Linked DNA regions of Homo sapiens. The protein of the gene in region 3 purifies or fractionates together with the protein of the main gene of each other region. This does not show direct contact. Each region holds a gene or a part of one and is shown on either strand. Other genes may lie near its edges.

Evidence for each region.
Region 1: the proteins of DEFA1 (region 3) and BMP1 purify together in Homo sapiens (affinity purification with mass spectrometry, with the first as the bait; 2 studies listed by BioGRID). This does not show direct contact.
Region 2: the proteins of DEFA1 (region 3) and MANBA purify together in Homo sapiens (affinity purification with mass spectrometry, with the first as the bait; 2 studies listed by BioGRID). This does not show direct contact.
Region 4: the proteins of DEFA1 (region 3) and ERAP1 purify together in Homo sapiens (affinity purification with mass spectrometry, with the first as the bait; 2 studies listed by BioGRID). This does not show direct contact.
Region 5: the proteins of DEFA1 (region 3) and CACNA2D2 purify together in Homo sapiens (affinity purification with mass spectrometry, with the first as the bait; 2 studies listed by BioGRID). This does not show direct contact.
Region 6: the proteins of DEFA1 (region 3) and COL14A1 purify together in Homo sapiens (affinity purification with mass spectrometry, with the first as the bait; 2 studies listed by BioGRID). This does not show direct contact.
Region 7: the proteins of DEFA1 (region 3) and HS6ST1 purify together in Homo sapiens (affinity purification with mass spectrometry, with the first as the bait; 2 studies listed by BioGRID). This does not show direct contact.

Annotation. Positions count from the first base shown.
Region 1 is NC_000008.11:22,203,206-22,207,084, reverse strand, and holds part of BMP1 (bone morphogenetic protein 1 isoform 3 precursor), read right to left. Parts: intron 232-3,879; coding exon 104-231; intron 1-103. UniProt on the Homo sapiens protein: Metalloprotease that plays key roles in regulating the formation of the extracellular matrix (ECM) via processing of various precursor proteins into mature functional enzymes or structural proteins.
Region 2 is NC_000004.12:102,631,766-102,635,644, reverse strand, and holds part of MANBA (beta-mannosidase precursor), read left to right. Parts: intron 1-599; coding exon 600-857; intron 858-3,363; coding exon 3,364-3,588; 3' UTR 3,589-3,879.
Region 3 is NC_000008.11:6,977,045-6,981,457, forward strand, and holds DEFA1 (neutrophil defensin 1 preproprotein), read right to left. Parts: upstream 3,049-4,413; 5' UTR 2,969-3,048; intron 2,117-2,968; exon of another isoform or gene 2,082-2,116; coding exon of another isoform or gene 2,073-2,081; intron 1,603-2,072; coding exon of another isoform or gene 1,591-1,602; coding exon 1,416-1,590; exon of another isoform or gene 1,285-1,415; intron 836-1,284; coding exon 726-835; 3' UTR 605-725; downstream 1-604.
Region 4 is NC_000005.10:96,794,178-96,798,056, forward strand, and holds part of ERAP1 (endoplasmic reticulum aminopeptidase 1 isoform b precursor), read right to left. Parts: intron 3,133-3,879; coding exon 2,998-3,132; intron 986-2,997; coding exon 865-985; intron 1-864. UniProt on the Homo sapiens protein: Aminopeptidase that plays a central role in peptide trimming, a step required for the generation of most HLA class I-binding peptides.
Region 5 is NC_000003.12:50,371,099-50,374,977, reverse strand, and holds part of CACNA2D2 (voltage-dependent calcium channel subunit alpha-2/delta-2 isoform b precursor), read left to right. Parts: intron 1-164; coding exon 165-241; intron 242-1,892; coding exon of another isoform or gene 1,893-1,913; intron 1,914-3,879. UniProt on the Homo sapiens protein: The alpha-2/delta subunit of voltage-dependent calcium channels regulates calcium current density and activation/inactivation kinetics of the calcium channel.
Region 6 is NC_000008.11:120,369,263-120,373,141, forward strand, and holds part of COL14A1 (collagen alpha-1(XIV) chain isoform 1 precursor), read left to right. Parts: intron 1-67; coding exon 68-223; intron 224-1,073; coding exon of another isoform or gene 1,074-1,105; exon of another isoform or gene 1,106-1,474; coding exon of another isoform or gene 1,475-1,572; exon of another isoform or gene 1,573-1,889; coding exon 1,890-1,969; 3' UTR 1,970-3,879. UniProt on the Homo sapiens protein: Plays an adhesive role by integrating collagen bundles. It is probably associated with the surface of interstitial collagen fibrils via COL1.
Region 7 is NC_000002.12:128,266,839-128,270,717, forward strand, and holds part of HS6ST1 (heparan-sulfate 6-O-sulfotransferase 1), read right to left. Parts: intron 2,033-3,879; coding exon 1,324-2,032; 3' UTR 1-1,323. UniProt on the Homo sapiens protein: 6-O-sulfation enzyme which catalyzes the transfer of sulfate from 3'-phosphoadenosine 5'-phosphosulfate (PAPS) to position 6 of the N-sulfoglucosamine residue (GlcNS) of heparan sulfate.

The DNA.
Region 1 (3,879 bases), about 15 Mb from region 3:
GATGGCAGACCTCTGGGCTCAGCCTGCAGCCTGTGTGGCTCTGGGCAGTGCCTCTGACCGGGGGCAGCCACACCGCATAAGGAGTGGGGAGGGGACCCCTTACCAGCTTGACCCGGTGCCCGGGGGTGCTGGAGATGGCCCACGTGCACTCCTTCTTGCTGGGATACTTGTCAGGCCAGTTGGGGCTGGTGATGGTACCACTGGTGGATGTCACCTTGTGGTCACAGCCGGCTGCAGGGAAGCGAGTGACGGAAGGGGATAGAGAGGGACCCCAAGCTCCGATGCCTCCTGTGGGGAAGGCCCTTCCCTCCTGCCCCCCCTCCTTTCTTCCATCTCTTGTCCCACTTATGAACTGGATGGCAGGCAGGCATCGTTTCTTTTTCATGAGGTTACTGCGTCTGGGGAAAATCTAGCTGCCCGATTCCTACAAAAGCCTTGAGTGAGGCCTCACATGGCAGCACTCATGAAGCAGCCATCGCAGGCTCCCTGGACAACCCCCAGACCTTTGTAGGTGTTGGGCCACAGGGGTCATATCACCTGTGCCTCTCCATTTTTCTTTTCTTTCTTTCTTTTTTTTTTTTTTGAGATGGAGTCTCGCTCTGTTGCCCAGGCTGGAGTGCAGTGGTGTGATCTCGGCTCACTGCAACCTCCACCTCCCAGGTTTAAGTGATTCTCCTGCCTTAGCCTCCTCAGTATCTTGGATTACAGACGTGCGCCACCATCTCTGGCTAATTTTTGTATTTTTAGTAGAGACGGGGTTTCGCCATGTTGGCCAGGCTAGTCTCAAACTCCCGACCTCAGGAGATCTACCCACCTTGGCCTCCCAAAGTGCTGGGATTACAGGCGTGAGCCACTATGCCTGGCTAATTTTTGTATTTTTAGTAGAGACAGAGTTTCACCATGTTGGCCAGGCTGGTCTCGAACTCCTGGCCCCAAGTGATCCACCTGCCTAGGCCTTCCAAAGTGCTGGGATTACAGGCGTGAGCCACTGCACCCGGCTGACCTGTGCCCCTCCTTGAAGCTGTCATCCACTGATCTCCAGCAGCCTGGACAGTCACAGGGGACTTTGACACCTGACTCAGTTCTCCCCACCCCCACTCCTGCTACCCTCCCAGGTGAAGTCAACAGACATATAACGGTCCACCCAAGACGGCCTCTCGGTTCCTTGAGGGCTTTGTCATCATCCACTGTTTCTTCACATCACAAACACATCACCCCTCTGTGGCCACCTCCTGTTCCTTCGGGGTGCTCAGGACCTCACCTTCCTGATCATGGTCATTTGGCTTTATTAAAATTAAAAAACAAAAACAAAAATGGGTCCTCACTTTGCTACCCAGGCTGGAGTACAGTAGTGCGATCATAGCTCACCATAGCCTTGAGCTCCTAGGCTCAATTGATCCTCCCGCCTCAGCCTCCCAAGTAGCTGGGACTACAGGCATGCCACCTGGGTAATTTTTTTCATTTTTGCTTGTTGTAGAGATGGGGTCTCACTATGTTGCCCAGGCTGATGTCAAACTCCTGGATTCAAGCGATCCTCCTGCCTCAGCTTCCCAAAGTGCTAGGGTCACAGGCATGAGCCACTGTGCCTGGCTGGCCTCTTAATTTTAGAGAGACCTCCAGGGTCTTGATCTTTCTATTCTCTCCCACTATTTCCTCCTCGATTGACTTAACTGACTGCAGGGCTGACCACCCAGCCTGCTCCTCTGCACCCTGCGTGGCCCTGCATCCCCGGCTCTGCACAGCACTATCTTAGAAAACTCCACCTGTGGCTCCAGCCTCACCTGGGCCCCCAGACCACTTGATACTCTTTGGATTGGCCTTTACCAGCTCCATCTCTCACCTCCTTAGTAACTGCTGCAAACATCCAGCCCCCTCCTCAAGCCACTGTGTCAGCTCCCAGTGGCAGACCACCTCTCTCCTACCTCCTGACAAAGCCAGGGCCTTCCACCATGAATGGCTTCAACCTCTGGACTCCGACCTGCAAACCCACCTACCCTGCTACCCTGCTGCCCTGAAGCCTCAGAGCAAGTGTCCCTCCTCCCCGTCAGGATGGACTGCCCTTCTGGGAGGTGCAGCTCATTGCTGCCCACGCGTGGGAACCCTCACACCACAAATGATCCAGCCTCACGCTCTCACTCAGCTCTGCAGCCTCGGAACCTTCACACATCCTGAAAGAGCTCTCCCAGGCCCCTCCAGCTACAGCCCATCGCTCTCCTTTTGTTTCCAGCTAGCCTTCGAGAACACTCGCTATGGCCACACTCTCACGGCAGGTCTCCTCAATCCACGGCAATCTGACTTCTGCCTCTGAAAAGCATGGCTTCCCCAACTCAATTTCTTTTTGCGGGGGCGGGCGGGGTGGGGGGGGACAGGGTCTTGCTCTGTTGCCCAGGCTGGAGTGAAGTGGCGCGATCCTGGCTCACTGCAACCTCTGCCTCCCAGGTTCAAGCGATTCTTGTGCCTCAGCCTCCCAAGCAGTTGGGACTATAGGCTTGCGCCACCACGCCTGGCTAATTTTTTGTATTTTTAGTGGAGACGGGTGTTGCCATGTTGCCCAGGCTGGTCTTGAGCTCCTGAGCTCAGGCAATCTGCCCCCATCAGCTTCCCAAAGTGCTGGGATTACAGGCATGAGCCACCACGCCCTGCCCCGACTCAGATTTACAAGCTGATGATCATTATTCATGATGACATTATTGGACAGCTTTCACTGGGGGAAACAGGCGGCCAGGCACTATGACTGGTGGGGAGAAGGATGGGCAAGATACAGCACGAGGGCCCGGAAAACAGGGCCCTCTCAAGTCCCTGGTAGAGGCAGGTGAAGCTCCCGTCTACCCACACTTGAACCGTGAGCTGTCACCATTACCCATCGGTGGGTTCACACAGCCCCCTGCCCTCCCTCTTTGCGCTCTGGCCTTCCACGCCCCCTGTGTTCCTTGCACGCCCATGTCTCTCCCCAGCTAGGCTGCAATCTCCGTGGGAACAGAGGGGTTCCTGTCTTGAATCCCCTACAGATCTTTGCATAGTGCTGGGTCCTCCATAGGAATCAGGAAATGCTTACAGATCTGTAATTAACCTATCACCTGAGTAAGAAACCACACATGCTTCTAAGGTGAATCAGCAGATGGAAAGGTAAACAGGCCATCTTCTCCAGGAGCTTCACCCCTGTCCTGGCTATCTTGTGGATTCTGTTCTTTATCAAACCATCTTTTTACACAGGGGAGTACAGAGACAGAATGCAGTTTAGACAATATCAGTATAAGGTCCCCTCTAGCTAGTTCCATGACTCAGGAACTGTGTATTTGGGAAGCCTGAGGTCACAGGGTTGGAAGCCCTCGACTGTCCACTGGTTCACTGTTGAGGGCTTCGGTTCTGTTTCTGCTTGTGAGCAGCTCATCTGTTTAAACCTGGGTTGTCAACCTAACCAGGGTGGGAAGAGTCACTTGCCAAGCATGGTGCTAATGGCTCAGAGCCATGTCTATAAAGCTTAGTACCCTGCAAGGTAGGTATCATTTTTATTATTTTTTATTTTTTGAAACGGAGTCTTGCTCTGTTGCCCAGGCTGGAGTGCAATGGCATGATCTCGGCTCACTGCAACCTCCGCCTTCCAGGTTCAAGCAATTCTCCTGCCTCAACCTCCTGAGTAGCTGGGATTACAGGTGCGTCCCACCACGCCTGGCTAATTTTTTGTATTTCTAGTAGAGACGGGTTTTCATCACGCTGGCCAGGCTGGTCTTGAATTCCTGACCTCAAGTGATCCGATCGCCTTGGCCTCCCAAAGTACTGGGATTACAGGCGTGAGCCACTGCACCTGGCCTATCATTTTTTATCGTTTCATGGATGAGGAAACTGAAACACAGAGAGGTTGAGTGACTCACCCAAAGT
Region 2 (3,879 bases), on a different chromosome or scaffold from region 3:
CTTACAGGATTTCTATGAGTAGGAAATAAAATAACTAGATGAAAGCAAATCACATATGCTATAATGTGCCCCTTAAATGCAAGGTTATTTATAATTGTGAGAGGCTGGAAATAGTCCAAACTTTATAAAAAGAAATGGTTAAAAATGGCATGTTATAGTGAAAATCAGTAAAACTATTCAGAATGCGCATGTGGAAAGCAAATTTGTTTTAAAAAACAAATTTAAGTAAAAAGAAAGGCTAGAAACTCAAAGTCTTAGGTGGCTATAGTTTGGAGGACACTAATAACACTGAAAATAGGTCACATTTACAGAAAAATTACAACGCACCAGGTACTGTGCCTTCCGTGGATTATTTTTTAAATTCTCACAACAGCCTGTGACATTACTGCTGTTATTTTCATTCTACATATGAAGAAATGAAGACTGAGAAGTTACTTAGTCACATAGCTAGTATTTTGCAGGACTGGGATTAAAACTCAGGTTTCATAGTCTCTTAACCATTTCTGCTAACCTGACTTTCAGCAATTATTACTACTATTGTTCCTTAAAAACATAGCAACCAAGAATGCCTGTTTTTATTCTGTTTTATTTCTCCCCAGGTGAGAGTCCATACATGGAGCTCCCTGGAGCCCGTGTGCTCTCGTGTGACTGAACGTTTTGTGATGAAAGGAGGAGAGGCTGTCTGCCTTTATGAGGAGCCAGTGTCTGAATTGCTGAGGAGATGTGGGAATTGCACACGGGAAAGCTGTGTGGTTTCCTTTTACCTTTCAGCTGACCATGAACTCCTGAGCCCGACCAACTACCACTTCTTGTCCTCACCGAAGGAGGCCGTGGGGCTCTGCAAGGCGCAGATCACTGTAAGCACAGGTCATGGCGGAGGGCAGGGGACTGTGGCCTTGTGGGGTTCTCCTGCTCTTGGGCCAGCTCCTTGCATCCTGAGATTTGCATGTGTCCCCCTTGGTGCTGAGTTTACCTGAGGCCTGGGGGAAGATTGGCCTCTTCCCACTAAAAGCAAACACCAAATGATTTCTATTTCGAATCCAGGATTTGTCAGAGTTGCTGGTGACCACTACTCGTTTGTCCCATCACCCCTCCTTAGTGGGCAGGTGCAGTGATGGGAGAGGAAGCTCGAGTCATCACCACTGCCTGCATGCCCACTAGGTTCCAGGCTGTGTTCTAGGTGCTTCACCTCATAGTCTCTGACTTTCACCACAGCTCCAGGCATTATCATCTGCATTTTGTAAGTTTGGAAGCCAGTTTAGGAGGTTAAGTGATGAGCTCGAGGTCCTGTAGCTGGGAAGCATTGGAGCCCAGCTGACGCAGTCTAATTTTAAGTAGAGTCTATTAATATTCACTCTAGTCTCTTTGATTTATTGCTTCAAAGTAGCTCAATCACCAAATCTTTTTATAATTGCCAAGATATAAAAATGGGATGATCAGGATGTGTTGTTATAAAAATTGTGCAGCTGGAGAATTTGGAATTTGTCTAGTAGGTTGAAAACCTTTCCTTCCTTCTCCCCTACACATAGCAGTTGGAAATATATGTACACATATATGTTTTTAATTTTATTATCTTATCTTCTGGACACTCAGGAAATATCTTTCTAGAAAGTTACATTCTCTGTTTTTAGAAAATTTTAAATTTGTTTTACACTTTTACTTCATAGAAAGGGATTTTCTACATTTAATTTAGAAATAATCATATAAAAACACCTAATTCTTGTGTTTTATTTGAAAGAGCCTAACAACTGAAAACATACCTTCTTTCTATAGTCACATAATAAAATCCAAGTTATCTGTAACAACTAATAGAGAACAGAAGAAAATGACAGTCTTACATATATTTTTTTCCAAAAAAGAAAAAAAAAACCACTATGTACTGGATGAATTTTCAGTCTCTAAACTTATGATTTTGAAAACCAAATTTTTTTCTTTCCTGAGTTAGGCCTTCATTACCTTGAGGTGGGTAATTGGGGTGGGAGAAAAGCAGGGCTCTTTCTTTGTTCTATCTCATTTTGATTTCAGTGAGACTTGTCCTTCTTAAAGAGATAAAATGATAGTAATAATACTGTTAGTTAATGTTTAATTCGGGGCTAATATAGACTAGGTATTTGGCTTCTTTTCTCAAGGGAGATGCCAGAAACTTGTTCTCCCTGTCTCCCTGAAGCCAGGGTGCAAGCTTGAATCCCAGGCTCTGCAGTCAGACATACAGAGAGGAGATTTCCAATCCAACGAAGATAACCAGCATAAGCATGACACCAGCATCTCTTTCGGCCTTGGTCTTGGAGCAGCAGAAGCTGATGCTACCCTGGCAGCTTCCTGGGCAGGCTGGCATGAGCCGCATGAACCTTGTTCCTGTGGCTGCTTTAGGACCTTCACTGGAACAGCTGGGCGGTGCGATCTGGGAATTTGCCATCCAAATTCAAGCCTGAGTCTCTGATCCTGAAGAGCAACCTGATACGCTTTATTAAGCTTCTTTTCTGCTTCTATCAATATAGGTTTCCTTGTGTATAACTCAGAACCCTGAATGATAACATATTACACAAATATGTAAGGCTAAATTATATATAGTGAAAATGGCCCTTTGAAATTCTTTATGTCACACATAACATATAATGTAAGACTGAGATGTTGCATGACAAATGCACAGATTAAGAAACCAGGTTGCACTCAGCTCCGTGCTCACACAAAGAGAGGTTTGCAAACCCTCCCACTCTGGGGAGCAGCGCATCCTCACTCTGGGCATATGCTATTCGGCTACTTAAGAGGAATGGAGCCAACACGATTTAAATTGCACTGTCTCTTTTTGCTGCTATTTTGTGGAATTCACACATGTAAAAAAAATGCTAATAATGTGACTTTACTTAACTATGCAGTAAAAGAGATAAGCTCTAATGGTAGAGCTTTTGTAAATTTCTGGCAGTGGACTTTCTAGATTGCTGGATCTTTTCAGGAGACTTGAATGTAAGCTCCACAGTTGGGCTCTGTAGCTAGGTCCAGATATATCCTTAGAAAGTCATTAAAACCACCCAGGCTGTATGTAAAAATGTTGCTCTCTTGATGATACTCTGAGAAAAACTGTAAAAGATGTAAAGCTTTGAGCTTCTTGTGAAATATTCTCCTTAATGATTGGAGACGATGTATTTCCTTGATTTGTGATTATAATTTGGTAACGTTCCATAGCCTGTAGTCATTTTCCATGTATTGTTTTGTGTTTGAAACTGCACTTTAGCAGTTGTAGAACCAAAGTTGTGGGAAGTGGACTCCTTGTTAAGCCCACATAAATGTTTACAGGAACTGTATACAGACTATATAACTCTTCCCTCATCCTTCACTTCATTCATTTTTTTTTTTCTTTTTCAGGCCATCATCTCTCAGCAAGGTGACATATTTGTTTTTGACCTGGAGACCTCAGCTGTCGCTCCCTTTGTTTGGTTGGATGTAGGAAGCATCCCAGGGAGATTTAGTGACAATGGTTTCCTCATGACTGAGAAGACACGAACTATATTATTTTACCCTTGGGAGCCCACCAGCAAGAATGAGTTGGAGCAATCTTTTCATGTGACCTCCTTAACAGATATTTACTGAAGGAATCTAGGTTGTATTTTCAGTGGACAATGGGAATAAAGCATTTCTAAAGCACCGACTGGAGAGGAAGGCAACAGAGACAAGGAGAGAAGCCGAGAGACATGTCTGCGTGCTGCCACGCATTTGAGCGATTGCTCTGTGAAGAGTTGTACACTGAACACTTTCAGGGGAGGCTGTTTACCCAGGCAATGTCCTCAAACAAGCCTGTGCCGGGGTGTCCTGGAATCTGTGCCAGGACTGTGTTTTTAGCCCTTCACCTCTCAGCTTTAGCAGGACATGAACCAGTTATAA
Region 3 (4,413 bases):
GCGGTGGAGCATTTGTGTGTGTGTGTTTTCTGGGTGTGAAGACAACTTTATGATTGTGAAATCCAGGTCTTAGTAGACGTGGCTGGAGGGTCCTCTTAATGAGGACGTGCCAATGTGAGATGCTGTGCTTTCTGTTCCATGTATCCCGCCTTTGCTAACAACCCATTTCCCTCTGAATGAAAGTTTTTTCCGTGGATCTCATGTAACCCTATGTCTTAAAAGGAAAATGTACAATCTGACATTGTTCAATGAAACTCCAATTCTTTAGCACAGAGGATGGTTTTTTTTTCCCGGAGAAGTAATGATTTTGTGACTGCATGAAATGTAAGCTGACACCGATTGTTTGCCCAGCACACGCGAGCTCTTTGAGAGTGGATCCAGAGAAAATGAGGCAGGGTGAAAAGGCAGAGCAGTGGGTGGGGAAATCAGTGGTGTCATATGGGCCTTCTTTTCAATTTGGATCTGAAGCCCAAACTCCTGCTTGAAATTCCTAGAATTTGGAATTTTATATTGTTCAAAAATTTGATTTTGCGTTTTGGTACGTGTATCCCAAGTGTCTTGACACAGACACATATCACACATTAAAGAGGTGGAAACACAGAAATCTTGTAACAAGGCATTTATTTGGGATGAGGAAAGGAAATTGAGCAGAAGGTACAGGAGTAATAGCAATTCCCTGTAGCTCTCAAAGCAAATTTTGAGCTCATTTTTCTTTTTCTGCAAGCTCAGCAGCAGAATGCCCAGAGTCTTCCCTGGTAGATGCAGGTTCCATAGCGACGTTCTCCTGCAATGCACGCTGGTATTCTGCAATAGCAGGCCATGTTTTTCCTTGAGCCTGGGACAGGGAGAGCATGAGAAATTGAGTATGGAGTTAGCAGTGGGTAAGAAAAAGAATCTCGGGGAAGTCACATGCTAGCTGACAGGTGATGCTGGCTGCATTGCAGCCGTTAGCACGAACAACCTCAGTCGATAGGAATAAACACGCAGAGCAGTGCTTGTCACTCAGAATTTGAGACTCATTCTCCTTTGCTCTCATTTTTGCATTCCTGCCCCATCACACACACACCTGAACATATCCTCAGGCTTGGCTGCAGTTTTTAAAAGCTCTTCTGTAGATAGAGTAAAATGTTCTCTTTACAACTAAGTCTACTTGTTTAGATCCAGAAATAACTAGTCTGTCTCTTCATATCTGAAACTTAGTGAATTTCACAGACGTTTCTTGGAATCAAGTCTTTGGAGAAATAAAGTTTCTCATGTTTATTTGGCTCTCTGTTCAATTTCTAGATGAGAAAATCAATGCCCAGAGATTCTAAGTGAAGCCACCTCAGTGACATAGACTGCTGAGACCCAACTCTGGAACCTCTCTCCCGTCCTTCCCTCTAGACTTAGCAGCTCTGCATGCCTGCCTCTCTCACCTGGATGCTTTGGAGCCAAGCTTTCGTCCCATGCAAGGGAAACAACCACTTCTGGGATGTCCGCTGCAATCTGCTCCGGGGCTGCAGCAACCTCATCAGCTCTTGCCTGGAGTGGCTCAGCCTGGGCCTGCAGGGCCACCAGGAGAATGGCAGCAAGGATGGCGAGGGTCCTCATGGCTGGGGTCACCTGGAGGAGGGAGAGCAGGAGCAGCTGTGTGGGGAGGGAGGAGCCAGCCTGGATTTATAGCTCTACTGGGAGAAGGCTCGGAGACAAGAAACCTTCCTCAATCTCAGTGAGAGGAGGTGTGCATTTTATAAGAGAGGCCCATTGGTCTCAAGGTTGCTCGAATGCTCCTGTTCTCCCAGTTTCATGCTAGTATACATCTGTACCTTTAATGTCTGTGCTAGGTTGGAGCTAATAATGACAAGAAAGACCCTGCTATGTTACTCGTGGGTTCACCTGCTTAAATATTATGATTCACTTTTTAACATTCCAAAAAGAATAGAAATTGCACTTTGATTCAACAGGCTCAGGGAACAAATGCTTCTTATTTTCTGAAGATGGGTCCTGCTGTTCTCTGGAGGTCTAGATTCTGGTGTCCTATATGAGTTCCAATGGAATAGCGAGTAATTCACTTCAGGATTCAGGTGACTTACCATCCTCATGAAGAGGTTTTTGAGGTTATGGGGTGAGTAGTCTCCTGTAGGAATCAGGGTGGAGAGGACAATGATTTTATCAGGCTAAAGGTGAAATCAGCTCAGTGACACAGAGTGGTTTAAGTAAAAAAAAGAAAGTTTATTATTTCCACCTCTACTTAGACTTGAGTAACAATTAACAATTGTATATTTATAGTGTACACTACCTCATGATTTTATATATGTATGTATTTAAATCTTTATCTCACACCATGTAGAAACATCAACTCAGAATGAATTGAAAACCTAAATGTAACAACTGAAACCATAAACTACTAGAAGTGTATAGAAGGATAAAGCTTTTGACATTGATGTAGGTAATGATTTCTTGGCTATGACACCAAAGGCACAGGCAATAAAAGGGAAAATAGACAAGTGTGGCTTCATTTAACGCTAAAGCATCTGCACAGCAAAGGAAACAATCAACCGAGTGAAAAGATAACCCAGAAAATGAGAGAAAATATTTGCAAAACCTACATGGCCGAAGGGGCAAATATCTGAATACATAAGGAATTCCAACAACTCAATAGCAAAAATCAAACAACCTGATTGAAAAACAGACCAAGGACCTAAATAGGTTTCTCTCAAAAGAATGTTCCAAAGACCTGTGATAGTCTCTACTGGACATGTCAACCAGGACATGTGACATGTGTGTTTAGAAGGAAACTGCTTGAGTTTCTCTATTAAGTTAGCTGGAAGCCATCGTCCCCAGCAGTCACCAGAGGTCCGGACAGACGTTCCTAGCAGGGATTCGCCCGCTGGTTCCCTCTGGGGTGGCCCCACAGTCAGAGGTCAGATTGGAGGCATAGCTTCAATAATGAAAACTCAGTGTAAAGTTTAAGTTTTGTAGTACTTACAGATCCTCTAGCTAGGCAGGGTGACCAGAGAGGGCAGACAGCAGTCCTCTGTCCCAGGTCTTCTATAGCAAGGAGCAGCCGTGCACAAGTGGACTTCCCCTATTTAAAGGTCTTTTGGGATGAGGTGTCCTAATTTCCGGGGTTACTTTCTGTTGGGTCCATTAAATAATTGTGGTGGCAAGGACAGTTGAGAAATTTGGTGGGAAGGTGAGGTTAAAGTAGAACTCCACAGAGGAACCTCTCATCTACCTTGGTCAGCCCTGGCCAGGCCCAGGCAGCAACCAACTATGGATTCTCAATGGCTCCTAACACAGTTGACCCTGTGATGCATTGGCTGTGGCTAAGCTGAACTACCTGCACCAAGGGAATATTTAAGGCCTCTGGGACAGCCTGGCTGCGTATCACAGTATACGCCCTGCAAAGAGATTGGGATAGGAATGCCACCTGCACACAGAGGAGGATTTGGAATGTGTTTCTAAAGCAGTGTCCCGAGGACCTGGGGTCTAACCATAAAAACTAATGAAAGCCATTTGGCTGAGCTGGGATGTTGGAGAACACCCAGGTGAGACTGAGTGCTACCTGGGCTTCTGTTGCTATGTGGAACAGACATTTTTGGGTTCTCCTGAGTACTGGATGTACACGCGGCATGTGGTTCCCCAGAGGTGACTATCACCTGTTTGCTTGGCCAATGAACAGTTTAAGCTTAAACAATTGTCTAGGATCATCTGGGCCAAGAACTGGTCTGAGGCATTAGCCATCAGGGTGGGAGTGGCCTTTCCAGATGGCCACCCAAGAAAGGAGGTGGGAGTCTGGGCATTCACTTTACTGCTGGTGTTGCACAGCCTCTCAGGCCTTGTGGGCCTTCAGAGAAGCATTCAGCAAAAGCTTGAGTGGTGCTTTCTGGGAGGCATAGGAGTTTCCATCCTTCACTGGTACACATCGGAGAACAGGTGTATCCCTGAGCCCATGATCATGTCTGGATGCTTTCTGTGAATGCAATGCTCCAACTCTTCAGGCTGCAGTCTGGGTGTGTGCTGCGGCGTCATGAGCCCATTTGGATTGAAGCCTGTGCATCCAGAGAACTACCTCCTCATCCTTAAAACACGATCTGTGGTTGTGAGGGCTGCTGGTGTTTAAGCATTGGTGCCATGGGACCCATTCAATATCTAAGGGTTGAGTTGCCCGCCTTGGACACAGGTCAGGTTGTATCTGGGGTGCAGCCCCTGTAACAGGGCTTACAGGGAATTCCCCAGTTTTCCAGTCTGGGGTACAAATTCTGACTAGGGCTGTCCTGTTCCAGCAGCCCTCTAGGCTGCCAGGCCTGGGTTAAACAGCTACCCCACAAGCCATTTGTACATAAGATACCAAGCAAGGCCAATCATAGAGAACACTGACATCTTGTCACTCAGGGCTTTCTTCCCAGTGCTTCTATATTGACACTGATG
Region 4 (3,879 bases), on a different chromosome or scaffold from region 3:
TTTTTTTTTTTTTTTTTTTTTTGGAAACAAGGTCCCACTCTGTCACCCATACTGGAGTGCATTTGCAGTGGTATAATTACACCTCACTGCAGCCTCAACCTCCCAAGCTCAGGTGATCCTCCCATCTCAGCCTTGCAAGTAGCTGGGACTACAAGAGTGCACCTCCACACTCAGCTAATATTTTTGTACTTTTGTGGAAACAGGGTTTTGCCATGTTGCCCAGGCTGGCCTCAAACTCCTGGGCTCAAGTAATCCACCTGCCTGGGCCTCCCAAAGTGCTGAGATTACAAGACATGAGCCACCGTGCCCGCCTTTTCAGGCCTCTTGACTCCATTTCTAACCTTCTGATGAGGAGTTTGGAAATTGAAAAACTAAACAATTATAATAATCCATTCTATTTTGGATGCCCAAGACCCACATATACCTAAAAAATCAAACATACAATAGTTTTAAGGGCTTGTGTAAGAAAGAAAATTCAGATTGTCTTACACTATATAAATTTATTCATTCAAAACAGTTTGTTGAGCATCCTCTGGGTTCCTGCCAAGCAGGTGCCAGTAAAGAAAAAATGTAGCCTCTTCCCTCTGCTGTCTGCCCACTAATAAAATCAGAAGGCAAAAGAGTCCCCATGCCATATGCCTCAAGAACTCTATGAAGATCTGCTTTCTTCACTATCACTAGAAGTTACTGTACTCATCAAGGGTGAGGAGATGCTCAGAAAGATCAACCGCAGGTTTGTCACTTGCTGGGGTTTTTGTGGCTTGAGGGGCTGCTGAGGCAACTACAGGGATGTGCCAATTATAATGACAAATCTATGACTGTGTTCATCAAATGTCATGTGTAATATCTGTGCAAAATCTCTACCTTGTTTGGGTAGGGGATACGGTATGCTGAAATAATCCTCATAAAATTCTAGAAGAGTCACCGCAGCATCCAGTGCATAATCTGCTTGATTTATCTTGTCTGGCACAGCATAAACAGAAACCTAAAGAGAAAGGCACAGAAAGGAATTCAAATATCTTAACTGGCTTCTCTCCCCACATTGTGTAGAAGACTGACATTAATGTCTTCATATTGTGGGATATGGTTGCCAATATTAAAGAAAATAATTGGGAATTCCATTTCTTGCATTAATACTGACTGTTCCTGATTAATCCCCCTTCTGAAAACAACAACAAATGCTGGATAACATGTATAAAGTGTTCTTAAATGTGTTTATAAGATGGCAAATGAGAAAGAAAGATTTAGAAGCCAAAGTGAAATGACAGTTAGACCCTCTGATGTCAGGAGAGCACTGCAGCCAGCTTTAACCCTGCCGGCACTAGCCCAACACAGCTGGACTTGAGCTTTGGTTCTTATGTCATTGAAGGACTCAGGAGTTAAGAGACCAAGTCCAGGGCCTGCCCAAAGTAGAAAGTCTAACAGGACATACAATCCCTGCATAAAGCTAGTACCCAAAGGCCAGGCCTTTAATGTAAAGGTAAACTAGAAATAACTACCCTTTCTCAAGGAAACTACAAGTAAAGTGATCCCTGGACCAGTAAGTACTCCCAGACACTCTGTAAGAGCAAATACAATTTCTCTCTGGAATAATCCACTTTAGACTCAGGCAACGTAAGCTCACAAACATAATTCATAATACAAACAAGGAAACAAGATACCATAAGCAAGAGCCAGCAGAAACAACGAACCACAAAATCAGATACACAAAGAATTCAGATAAAACAATTACCAGACACAGATATATAATTGTATGCTTAATGTGTTTAAAGAAATGAAAGAATTAAAAATATTAATATAGATTAGACATTACTAAAATAATCATTTCTAAGAGATTCAGATAAGTGGCAAAGCAATGGGCGGGTGTTTTTGCTGATAGTTTCACTGCTGAATTAAGAATGTTCCCTTCATCCGAGTCTCAAGCGTCACCTTCAAATCCCCAGTTAAGTAAAGATACCTCCACAAGAATAAGAAATCTCAGCACTAGAGGAACACAAAGCAATTCAGCAGGGAATCCCCATCTATTCAGGCCTCAGTGAAAACCAGCACAAACACATAAGGTATCTTCAAACAAAGCATCCCTTCCTCCCCTCAGAAAAACCTGTTTGCATTCTGAGCTACGGCACACAGTTGAATAGGTTGCCCACTATGCAACAGTACCCAAATGAGGAACAAGTGTGCCTTGAAACAAGATTTTTCTCTCCAGCATTCCAGTGTACCTGGCCCAAAGCCTTTGGGTATTCCAAGCAGGTTGCTCTATCTTCCTTACCATAGCCAGAAATCCCCTGCCAGATAGTAACATTTACTTCCAAACTGCAGAAAGCCATAACCAGAAGCAACCTTAGAGACCATTGCAGGATCTAGTCCAAGTTATACCTTCCAAAGAAGTAAATACTAAGTTTCAGAGGGAATAGGGCCAAGGTCAGAGAGTCAGTGAAGTGACTGCAGTGAAGCCAGGATCATGACTCAGGCCAGGCCACACTCTCTCCACGTTGTTGTTATTAGAACCTCACTATACAAATGAGCATCCGTGACAACAGGCTGGCCAACCATCCCAGTTTGCCTGAGATTGAGAAGGTTCCCAGGATGCAGGACTTCCAGGATTTTGGTATTTGGTTTTGTCTTTGTTTGTTTGTTTAGAGACATGGTTTTGCTCTGTTGCCCAGGCTGGAGTGCACAATCATACCTCATTGAAGCCTCAAACTCCTGGGCTCAAGGGATCCTCCCTAGTAGCTAGGACTAGTAGCAGGCACAAGGAACCATGCCTGGCTAATTTTTTTATTTTATTTTTTGCAGAGACAGGTTCTCACTATTTTGTCCAGGCTGGTCTCAAACCCCTGGCCTCAAGTGATTCTTCCACCTCAGCCTCCCAAACTGTTGGGTTTATGTTGGGTTTACACGCACGACCCACTGCGCTCAGGCAGACTTCCAGTTTTAAAACCAGTTCCAAGCAAACCAGAACAAGCTGGTCACCATATGTGACAGTCATAGGCTCACCTTGACTCCACTCTTGGTTATCTTGCTGACAGACTCAAAATCTGAAATGATGAAGGCCACCAGATAGGTGCTCATCTTCACAGTGACATCAAAATGGTCTTCTATGAGTCCTTCAGCAACAGTCACAGATTTCACCTAAAATCAGAATAATTCAAATTATCAAGTAATCCAATTATCCAATACAGTGAACATGATAAATTTCCTAATTATCAGACATAATATTAAAAGTGTATCAATCCCAGCACTTGGGGAGTCCGAGGTAGGCAGAATGCTTGAGCTCAGGAGTTTGCGACCAGCCTAAGCAACATGGTGAAACCCTATCTCTACAAAAAAAATACAAAAATTAGTCCTGCTGGTGGTGCGTGCCTGTAGTCATAGCTACTGGGGAGGCTGAGGTGGAAGGATGGCTTGAGCCTGGGAGGTGGAGGTTGCAGTGAGCCAAGATTGAGCCACTGCACTCCTGCCTGGATGACAGAGCCAGACCCTGTCTAATGACGCTTCTATAGTTACTTTAAAAGTTATCTTTCCAATGTCTAATTATAATTTAGACATTAACGTCAAACAGTTCTACTCAATTTCTTTTTTATTGAGATATAATTCATATACCATACAACTTACCATTTTAAAGTTTACAATACACTGTAAATCCACATTTGGCATATGTGGATTGATAACACGGATGAGACAAAGCAAAACTGAAATTGTGAGTTTTGCCAAGATGTGGCTGATCCACTTTTCCTTAAATACAGGTTTGAGAATTATCTGGCAATGCAATGTCGAGCTGTTGAGCATATACGCAACGGGGAAAATATATAACCCTGTAGTACCTAAAAGAGCTTCTGTTCTGCTGTATAACTGAAAGTAACCTGGGCCGGACACAGT
Region 5 (3,879 bases), on a different chromosome or scaffold from region 3:
CCCTAGACCATGAACCTCCTGCAGCTAAGCGGGGAGAGGGGTCCCTGGTGGTGGGAGGAGGGGATGCTGCAGCTGGGGCCTCTGCCCAGCTCCAAGGCCATGGGGAGGGGGTGCCAGTGTGGCCCGCCTCCCCCCAGCCGTGACCCGAGCTTCTCCCCCCTCAGCCTGGGGCTGGTGCTCCCACCCTACAGCACCTTCTACCTCCAAGCCAATCTCAGTGACCAGATCCTGCAGGTCAAGTGTAAGTGGCCCGGCCCCTGCCTGCGCCCTGCACCCTGCCTCTGCCCCGCACCCTGGCCGGCCCCAGGCAGCATAGCCAGCGCCGCTTGCCGGCGAGGCAGTCCCTCCTGCCCAGTCTGCCCACCCTCAGGTGCCCGCAGGCTGGGGCACCTCGAAAGTCTGTGGAAATCTGCATGCTTGCCTTTTCTCAGATTCGGTTCCAGACCATTCTTTCATGGTTTCTGTTGAGGTTGCTGTTTTTGGTTTCTCCTACTCCGTGTCTTCCCTCCTTAGCCTGCCTGCCCCACACACTCCTGGGGGCTGCATTCTTGGAAGACACCCCCTCCCCTTACCTTCCCCCTCCCCTCCCCACCCACCTCCACTCCCCTTCCCCTCCCCTCCCCTTCCCCCTCCTCCTCCCCCTACCCTCCCCTTTCTCCTCCCCCTCCTCCTGTCCCTCTCCTCTCCCCTTTCCCCTCCCCTTCCCTTTCCCCTTTTCCTTCCCCCTCCCCTTCCCCCCACCCTCACCATCCCCCCTCCCCTCACCTTCCCCCCTCCCCTTTCCTCCCTCCACCTCCTCTCCCTTCCCTTCACCTATTCCCCCTCCCTTCAATTCCTTCCTCCTTCCCCTTACCTCCTCCCCAATCCCACCTCCCCTCTCCTCCTCCCCCTCCCCTCCTCCCTCTCCCTTCCTCCCCTTCTCCTCCCCCTCTTTCCCCTCCCCTCCTCTCCCTCCAGTCCTTCCCCTCCCCTCCTCCCCCCTCCCCTCCCCCCTTTTCCCTTCCCCTCCCCTCTTTCTCCCTCCCCTCCCCTCTTTCCTCTCTCTTCCTGTTCAGCTCTCTACCCCTGTGGTGCCCCCTTCCCATGGTGCCTCTCTCTCTCTCTGCCCCCTCCTCTCCATTCTTTCCTCATCCATCCTCACTCAGTTCCCACTTACCCTCTCATCCTTCTCCTCTCACTTCCTACCTCTCTCCCCTCTGCATCCAACCTCCCTCCCTTACGCACTGTCCTCTCTTCTTCCCTCTCTCCCTCCTCTTCTCCCTGCATCTCCTCTATCTCCCTCTTTCTCCTGCTCACCTCCTCCATCTCTCTCTCTCACTCTCCCTCCCTCCCGCTCTCCCCACCCCAGCACCCCCCCCCCTTCAGTCCCACTCCCCACACTCCCTCCGCTCTGCCCCCTGGCTCCCTCCTCACCTTCTTTCTTCCCTCCTTCATTCCCCATCCCCCTCCTCCCTCCCCCTCCCTGCTTTCTCCCTGGCCCCCCTCCTTCCTCCCCTGCCTCTCCCACTCCTCTGCCTGTGGCTCACCCCTGCATGCCCTGCTCATCCTGGGCCTCTCCTGAGAGAGTCTCTAGAGCCTGTGGCCCTGCCTGCCCACCACGCCCGAGGTCACTGGGAGGGAGGCTGGGGCTCCGGCCCCACCGGGCGCCCCCCACCTGCCTGGCCGACTGGGGGCTCATCTCCTTTGAGTTTTCTTGCTCTCTCTTTCTCTCTCATGTCGTTTTTTGCAAGAAGTTTCCTTTCGGTATGATGATGAGACACAATATTTTCATTCAAACAGCCATTGAATAAAATATTGTTTGTGCCCCTCCCCTTTCCCTCCCCCTTTTCGTTTGTTTTTGTGTTTGTGTTGTTTTTGTTTTCCTCGCTTTCTCTCTTGGTGGACTGTCCCAGTGCCAATCAGCAAACTGAAGGGCAAGTATATTCAGAACCAGTGCACCCTCCTCTTCCCACCCCTCCCATCCTCACGCCCCTGCTTGCCCCCCTCCCTGCCCAGGACCAGCCAAACCCCTGCTCTCCAGGGCCCCCTCCCAGCTTCCCCTTGGCTCCTCTAGTTCTTGCCTTTCCTCTGATTCCTAAGCCCCTATGAGAGCCAGTGGCCTGTGCCCCTGGCCCTGCCTGCAGGGTGTTCTCCGGCGTGTTCTCAGGGCCCACAACCCTTTCCTTGGACCCCTCACTCTCTCTGGGGAGGCCCCTGCCTCCCCCACCTTCTCTGTCCCTCTAAGACAACTCAACAGTAGGGACAGTCTGGACGCTTCTCCACCACCTCCCACTCAGCAGGGCTGGAGGCCTGAGATGCAGGGGGTAGATCAGCCCCTAGTGGGGCTCATGTGAAGCTGTGGGAAGGGGCCAGCCCACAAGGCCTACTCTGAGGTAGCTCTCCCTCCTCTGATCTCTGGCAGTAGCTTCAGAAGCTGGCAGCCCTCCAAGAAGGGAGGCAGAAGGCTCAGAAGCCTCACGCCCTGATGCTGGGGCCAAAGGGCAGCATAGGGCAGGCCCCAGCCATTGAAGAGCAGGGCTGACCCGCGCCTCCTGGGCACTGACACAGGTGCTGATGTCCCCGTGTCCTGCCGGCCCGCTGCTTCCAGAGGCTTTGCTGAGCCCCGGGGTGGCTTGGCAGTATGGAAAAGGTGTTTCCCTGGGGAAATAAAACCAGATTTGGGGACCAGGGGCCTGGACAGGGATGGAATGGGATCTGTTTAGACCCCAAGAGCCAGCAAAGGTGTTTGGAGGAAATCAGGCTGGGTATGAAAGGAAGGGTTCTGGCACACTGGGGTGCCTAAGCCAAGGAGACTTCTGGAAGAGTGGGTAGTGAACCCCTAGACCCTGGCAGAGAGTAAGGGGAGTGAGAGAGGACAGCATTACAAAGGTCTCAGAGAGCCACCTCTCCCAGGGAATCCCTGGGCAGATGGGGCATGGAGAGCCACAAGAGGATGTCCCCATGACCTGGAAGCAGGGGCACCCAAGAAGCCCTAGGGGCCCTGTCCAGCCTAGTCCAGCAAAGGGGATAAAGGGATCAGAGCCACCTCCAGTGGCCAGGGCGGGGGTGGGGGATGTGCCCTACTCCCACTGGCTTGAGTTGTCTTTTTCTCCCCACCCCCGCACATCCCACCCAGTGACCCCAGAAATGCAGGGCCCTAGTAACAATGACAACATAGCATAGTCTCCTTCCCTGCTCCTTCGCCCTCCTTTTTCTTTTTCCTCCTTCTCCTCTTCCCCCCAACCCCTTCCCCATCGGCTTGTGTCCAAACCCTGCCTCACAGTCCTATCAGAAAGGAACAGTCCAACCAGTGACTGCCCAGCCCCTCCAAGCACCCCAAGTGCCCCCTTCCCCAGAATCTTGCAGTGCATTGTGGGAGTATTTGGTATCAGGGACAATCTGTCTTCTATACAATTAAAGCCCTGGGAGCAAAAGAGAGCTCAGAAGTGGAGACAGGCTAAGAAGGTGGACCACCCACAGTGAGACAGGCCAAGAGCAGAGGGACCCCTCCCAGGTGCAGACCAGCAAGGTGGCCAGTCCAGCTGGGCAGGGAGAGGCCACAGAGGAGCCCCAGCGGCCACATCCTCAGGTTCACTCTCAAACCCATACAGAGATACTCACACTTAGGCACACACACACACACACACACACATGCATGCTCACTCACCCACACATGCACAGCTCATAAGCCCAGGGCACAGGCCCAACTGGGGATGCCTCAACAGCAGCCCTATGCCCTCTCTGGAGCCCTAGCATCCCCCATGGCTGCCTGGAGCCCAGACAGGTTTTAGGAAGGGTGGAGACCCAGCCCGTCTCCACGCCCTTAGCCAAGGGAAGCAGGTACAGTTTCCAGCAGCACCCCTGTCCTCCTTCCAGCTCCTCAGACTTTCTTCCCACACT
Region 6 (3,879 bases), about 110 Mb from region 3:
TGGTTGTCTCAAAACTCACCCTGTTGTGGCAAAAGACCAACGGTTTTCATCTGTGGGTACTTCTTAGGACCTTCAGGGGAGAGTCGGCCTGGCAGCCCTGGGCCCCCTGGCTCTCCTGGACCAAGAGGCCCACCAGGTCATCTGGGGGTTCCTGGACCCCAAGGTCCTTCTGGCCAGCCTGGATATTGTGACCCCTCATCATGTTCTGCCTATGGTGTGAGAGGTAAGTGTCACAAAAAGCCCCGCTTGTGGGCTTTGATCAATGTTTTAGTATGCTTAGTACCAAAATGGGAAGATAGTGCTATGAAAAAAGTTAAATTGGTTATGAATGGGAAGCAGAGCTTGAATGCCTCACTTCCTTAAATTATCCCGAGACATTTTCTATAAAGTGCAAATTGCTATAGAGGCTACTCCCTTAAAAACCTTAAGAGCAAATTCAAAATAACAGCACATCTAAGTCTTCCTTGCTTCCCAGTGATGACCTACATAGACTTGGCCTCTGACTTTGTATTTAGCACATTTGGAGGACATGGTTGAACATTCTTTTGGAGTCTCCATTCTTATGTGACAGCTGTGATGTGGCCAAGACGTCCCATAAAATTTTACTCTTGGTTTGGGGAAATGTCAAACTTAGAACTTCTCCCGTAATTAAGAGGGCTCCTTAGATTATTTTCAATGAAATCATGCATACCACTTGCATTTAGGTGCATTTAAGCACCACATTTTAGGTGACCAAGAATAGTTGTGAGAGGAAACAAAAATCATGCTGTCCTTGTCTTATCACTAGCTACTGGACTAAAAGAATATGCTTCCTAAAACATCTGCAGTGTGCATGCTGGCGTGCTGTGCAATGGCCCCTTTTCTGACATAGTCACTCTTGGAAGCATCAAGGGAGAGGCTGAGGGACTGCTGTGGGGCCATGAACTTACTAGTTAATGGGTTTAAAATTTTCTGCTTCAGTAGAAATTTAACCTTAGTTATCACAGGAATTGGTCAACAAAGTTTTGCTGATGTGTTTTTCTCTGTTCATCTTTTCCCTCCCTGTTCTCTCAAATACTCCTATCCTTATTAAGATCTGATCCCCTACAATGATTACCAGCACTGAAGTGGAAATCCTCCACTCTGGTTCCATTGGCCCCAGACATTTAGCTGTGGATACAGAACTGTCCTGTCAACCACCACCACCACCAAGCCCCTGCCCCTAACAATGGACACTCTGCTTCCCTGCTTCTTCTGCATCCCTGCCTTCCCACTTTCAAACCTCTTGCCCACTCTGCTCCAAACATGATGGAGTGATAACATCGGAACTTAACCAAATCATATATGTCTATTTTAATAGACACTGACTGCTCCATGTCAGCCTGGATAGAGGTATATGATCGTGTGCCAAGAATTTATCCCAGACTCCCCTGTGTGACAGCTTCATAATAAAGTTACTTAACTGTGCCTCTTCCTCCTTCCTCTCCCCACACAGGATGGATGGGCATCTTTCTCCTTGACCACCCTACTCTCCCTTCCTCCCCTGATCACCTCCCCTCCCTGCTCTTCCCTGGTGATGGACTTCTAACATGAGATTTTTTAAAAAAATTTCTATTTCTTTTATAATTTTGCTGAGTTTTCAGGGTTTCTTCTGTAAATAAAACATAATATTTAAATGGTTGGTTATGATTCTAGTTTTCTAACAATTTCTGTAATGTATCTTTCCCTTCGTCTATTTACTAACTGTCTGAAACCTTATGGGGAAGGTACAAGGGGCGTGGTGGATTAAGACATCCACTGCTTTTTACCCAGCAGGATATCTCTGTGTCTCTAAGGACCCAGGTGAGGGGAGAATATCAATTTATGATTCCTGGGTGCAGCAAGTCCCCACCCCCACTTTTCCTCTTTAGCTCCCCATCCAGATCAGCCAGAGTTCACCCCTGTCCAAGATGAGCTGGAAGCCATGGAACTGTGGGGCCCTGGAGTCTGATAGCCTCAGGAGAAATTTGAAGACCAACTGCAAGAACTCTTAAGGAATCTTGTTTGAGAAAATGTTGTTATGTGGTTTGTATGCTACTTTTGGGGGGCAGGGCTCATTTCAGCAGCCTAAATCTCCTCCTTGGATAATGTTAATATTATTATTATTATTAACAAAAAATATATATTTTTAAAAAGTTCCCTTAATCTATGACATGGTAGCAATGATTTCCCTTTGGTGTCTTAATGGCATGTCAGATAATTTGTTTTTCCAGAGAAGAGAGCTCAAAGAGGAATTGGGAAAAATAAATTGAACTCTGGAATCTTCTCTCTCAAGTCCTAAAATGAACAAACAGATATGATTGTGTTTGAGGGAAATATGTCCCTAGCAGGAAAAGAATTCAAAGAGGTTCAAAGAATATGTCACTTACTCCTACTTGCTGTAGGAATAACCTTGCTGATAAGAAAAAAAGGGACAATATTGGAGAAACTACCTCTTGTTTAATTGATCTGTCCAACTCTGAGATCACTTGGTAACTGGTTTCATGTGTATCCAAAAATCAGCATTTGGATTTAAGCTTTCTGAATTTGGTAGTTTAAGAAACAGATTTAGTTTTTCAGTGGTTTTAACTCATGTGAAATAATGATTTTCCACCAGCTCTGATGCAAAGAGATATAATTTTAATGAACGATTTATCCAGCAGTGTGTTCCAGGGGTTGCCTCTCCTTATCTACGGGGATTACTTTGTACATGCAGATAAGTTTTCGCAAACCTATTTCCATTTTCTTTTGTAAGCAAATAAAACTTTAAAACAATGTATGTGGATTCTTTTTCCTGCATTTCTAAGTATCACCTTAAGCTTTTGTAGTCTTAACTGAGTGTCCACCAGAAAGACAACAGTTGTCTTCCTTTAGGTAAGCATTCAAACTTTCATTCATTCGTTTACTCACTCACTCATTCATTCATTCTGAGTGCAGTAGAAAACAGAAGAAGCAGTTAACTTGGGACTAAGAGATTAGCGACATTTTATTGTTCATTTATAATCTAGCAGGCAGCAAAGACCCTGCAAATGCATGACCTCTGCTAAATAAATGTTTATCAATAGTTGACTGAGGAGCCCACCTATCTTCTGATATTGAGGAAAGCCTAAAAACCCCTAGAAGGCAGAGCAGAAATGAGGTTGAATCTAATAGACTCTAACCCTTAAACCATACTTTGTCTTTTGCTCACAAAGGAAAAATCTAGGTATTTGAGAAAGATTTGAATTCTATTATGTGCTAGTTGAAATAGAAACAAAAGAGAACCATAAATTTAATACGTGCTCCTTCTCTGTAACATCTCCCTAGTAACAGCTAACTTTAGAAAGTAGGGATGGGATCATTTACAACTAGAAGCTGGATTCTTTCTGGATCAGGAAAAGGCTAACACGAAGGATGGTGTCTGTCTGATCACCAGGTTCTCTTTCTGTCCTTCTCATAATCTCCTGATCTTTGGAGATGAAAGATCTCCTTTCATCTTCATCTGAAGGATTCTTCAGATGATTCATCTTCAGACTTCATCTGAAGGATTCAAACAATCTACTTGTGTGCCTTTGGTGGGGTGGGGCAGGGGCGGGGGGCGGTTCTAAACAAATCAGTTTTTTTGGTGTCTTTGCAGGGAATGAAAGAAGATAATGAGCAGATAATCAGCAGCCATTTCCTTTCAGTTATGGTATATGATTCTGCCTGAGAAAGCAGGATTTATGGGAAGGAAAACTTGTCTAAGGCTCATCAAGATGGCCTGACCCAGAGTCACCTAAGAGAACTCTTCCAACTTAAATGACTAGGGTGTGTAATCAGTTGCTTCTTATTCTGTGTCTCAGATTTCCTAGTCCATGACATTTAATAGTGAGTATAGAGTAGGATATTCTATACATTTTAGTA
Region 7 (3,879 bases), on a different chromosome or scaffold from region 3:
TACAACGGATATGCAACATGGCTTTTGGTAGGGCCATTGCAGCCAGTGGGGAAACCTGCGCGGCTGCTGGGAACAGAGCATGGCCAGCCTTTTGCCAGGGGGTGGGGAGCATGGGGAAATGCAAGGAGAGCCAGGGTGGGGAGGGCTGAGTGTCTGTTGTCAGGGAGGCCACCTACAGCTGTTTTGCCAAGGCTAGTTGAGAATCTGAAAGCTCGAGTCCCAGTTCCTGGCCATACAGAGCCACTGTGGTCCGAGGGTACGGCTCCTGGGCAGGGGCTATGGTCCCATGCTCCAGCCGATGGAAGCCTGATGAACTTAATCCGTACGCTGGTGGGAGCAGTGGTATTTGAGCTCTTGAGTATGTGTTTCGGTGATGGGGCTGGGGCAGCCTGCTAGCAAATCCCAGTGGGTCAGAAAGGAGAACAGAGGCAGGGGAGCCCTCGGTCCCCAGCCCTTCCAGTCTGAGCCAGGCCTGCCTGGATGGTCACCTCCAAGGGCCAGCCGCGGACTCACGCACAAGTGGCAGCATCCCTGGCCAAAGCCTCCCCACTCCTGGGCTGCCAGTTGGCCCGAGGAAGGCCGGCAATGCAGCTCGGGCCTACTACCCAAACCCCTCCTTGGTCTGAGGACTGTAGGGAGTGGGTGGGGCCTGAACATCAGCTTTGGCCTCCTGACCCAAAGCATGAAGCAGGACCATGGGCCAGAGAGGGGAGCAGGCTTCCTGGGGGCTGGACTCGAGTCTTCTCTGCCTCAGATGGGGTGGGCCCTGACTTTGAGGGAGCTACAGATGGGTGAGCTGGGGGCTCCCCAGGCCTCGGGGCATTGGGGGCAGCCAGAAGAGGAGGGGCTATGGGATGGCCTGGAGCTGGGGCAGTTGCCAGAAGCTGGTCTCACTCCTAGTAGCCCGGACAGAGGAGCTAAGAGCGAGTGCTGTGTGCATAGTTGGTGAGGGACACACTCCCGGCCTGGCAGGTCCACTTTCCGCTGTCCTCGTCTCTTGCGCAAACCTTCAGTTTTTGCGATAAATCCAAGGAGGCCAGGAGAGCAGCTCCAGGCACAACACCTGCTCTGGAGGCCCTGCCCTGACCATGGCATCCTTCGAGCACGCTTTCCTCTGACCCACTGGGCTGCACCTGTTGATTTCTCAAGCCCCCATCCCTGCCCAGCCCCACTACATCCCTGCTCTGTTTTTTTTCAGGACGCAGCTACCTCTGTGGAGCAGGTTTGGGATGCTCATCCCTTGACAGTCTTGGGTGGACCTGTCGTCTGTCCTGTTTTATCCCCCACACCCCCCAAGAGGCCTCCCCGTGGCCACCACCGCCACTACCACTTCTCAATGATGTGGCTCATGTAGTCCTCGGTGGGCACGCGGCCCGGCTCGTCGGCATCCTCCCGCGGCAGTGCCTCCTTGGCCCGGTGCAGCAGACGCTCCTCGCGGCTCCTCAGGCGCTGCTCCCTGCGCTCCAGCTGCCGCTTGTACTGGTAGCGCTGCTGGAAGAGGTCCTTGGCGTAGTCGTACAGCTGCATGTCCAGGTCGTTGAGCTCCTCGATGCGCCGGATGGTGTCTTCATCCACCTCCACGCCGCCCGCCCGCGTGCTATTGTACTGCATGAAGGGCCGGATGAACTTGAGGTTGAACGTCCGCTCGAACAGGTACTGCGTCTTGCGCTGGAACTCGGTCAGGCCGAAGAAGGCCATGCCCCGCAGGTTCTTCTTGGCGCTCTCGAGCAGCAGCTGGGCCCGCTTGCCCTCGGGGATGAAGGACAGGTTGTAGCAGCCCACCAGGCTCAGGTCGGCCAGCATGCGCACCTGGCGGTTGTTGGCCAGGTTGTACGGGCAGTCCATGAACTCCTGTAGCGTGCAGCCCGACCAGTCCGTGCCCTCGTAGCAGGGCGGCAGCTCCTCAGGCGTGGGCGTGCGCCCATCACACATATGCAACGACGTCTTCCACGTGGCACCCCTCTGCACATGCCGCCACTCGCTCAGGTAGCGGGACACGGGGTCTCGTAGCAGGGTGATGTAGTAGAACTTCCTGCAAGGAGACGGGGAGAGGAGGTGAGGGCTGTGACGCAGCATGAGGGGGGCTACCAGGGCTGCTCTGAGTCAAAGTCCCCACTACAGGAGTTTGGGCTTCGCCTCTAATGCCAACCAACTCCTGCACTTAGCTCTCAGTCGTTTCAAAACCCGGTATCAGAGATGCCAAGGAGCATGCCACGGTCACATGGCTACCCAGGATGACCACCACAGTGCCCTGCAGCGCCTGGCCTGGCTCCTCTGGAGGGACAACCTGACTTTTTCCTGCTGGTGGGTGGAGCCACCAATACCGCATCCAGAGAAGTCGCAGAGCCACAGCCGCCTGAGGCCAGCAGTCTTCACCAGCTGTTTACAGCCTGGGCATGGTGCCACCCAAAGAGCCACTCAGCAGGAACAGAAGGTGGGCAGGGGCCAGCGAGGGTCACCTCCAGTCCCAGTCCCAGGGTCCTGCCAAGGCCTGGTGGTGGTTGGGGGGGGGGTGCCCAGCGGACCAGCCAGCCCAGGACCCCAGAGGAAGCCATGACGTATACACCAACTCTACTTGCTGGGTTGTCCCCCAAGACACCAACGCATTGCACAGTATGTAACGGTGCGTGCACAAGGGAGAAACGACCCAAGGAAGACTCCACCTCCCACCCTCCCCTGCGCGGCAGGAGCCCAGCATGAAGCATGTCCTTGCCAGGCTCGCTATGACGCTGGGCTGGAGGCGTCAGGACACTGGACAGGTGGGTAAAACGTGGTGGCGGCTGTGGATATGCCCGGTGTGTGTGTGTGGGCTCAGCCCCGGGAGAGGCTGCAGTCATTCTTAGAGGGCTCCTCCTCCTGGCTCCTGTCCACGCTGGGGTGGGTGGGCTTCAGGCCAAGTAGAACCAGGGCCAGGCAGGCAGCCTAGGAGCCCACAGGGCCCCTCACTGCCCGGGGGAGCAGCTCCAGAAGGGCCCTGACCCCCCGCCAGGATTCCCCAGATGGCAACATGGAAGTGTACCCACACTGCTCCCCTCCTCCCCTCACACTGCCCTGGGCAGGGGTGGGGGTGGGGGGCATGGAGGGACCCCGGGGAGCACAAAGCGCTTCTTGGTGTCCGCTGGCAACTGCCTGATCTGACCGCACACCTCCCTGCAGGGAGGGAGGCACAGTGCCTGGCAAGTGGTGCGGTGCCACTGCAGGCCACCCCCGCCTATGAGGACATGTCAGAAAGCCCCAGGGGTGGCAGCTCTGAAGCAGGCGGGGTAGCCAGTGATGGCTCCAGGGGCAGGCAGCAAGGCCAGCACTACTGCATGCAGACTGCCGAGGAAGGGACAGGCAGCTGTCATCCGCCCAGTGTTTTCTGTGGCCTGGCAGGCTCAGACCCTGCCCTGGAGGAGCTCTCAGCAGATGGGGTGGAGGAAGGACCCAGCAGGACTGAGCTGACGACCCCAGGGTCAGGCACGGCTGGTCTCCAGGGGGCAGATAAGCTGTGGGCAGCAGGGGCGAGAGCAGGCCTCAGTTTCCCTGCTCCAGGCTCCCACTTCACACGTCCCAAGGCACACCTGGCCCTCCCCAAGCACCCTGCACCCACAGCCTGCCTGGTACCACCCATCCATGCTGATGGCAGCAGCTCCTGGGCACTCGGGGCCTCAAGGGCCAGAGGGCGGGACCTTCTTCAGGTAGCAGGTGAGACAAACGTTTTAGAAACAATAATGACCAAGGGCCAGGGAGTAAGGGCCCGAGGCGGCCGGGGCAGGCTTCTGTCTCCTGCCTCAGGCTCACGAGGCCCTGACTGCTCAGAAGAGGCTATCCATATCCTTCCTAGCTGACCCTGTGTCCAGGGGAGGCATAGGGCCGCATGGACCTCCGCTCCCCACT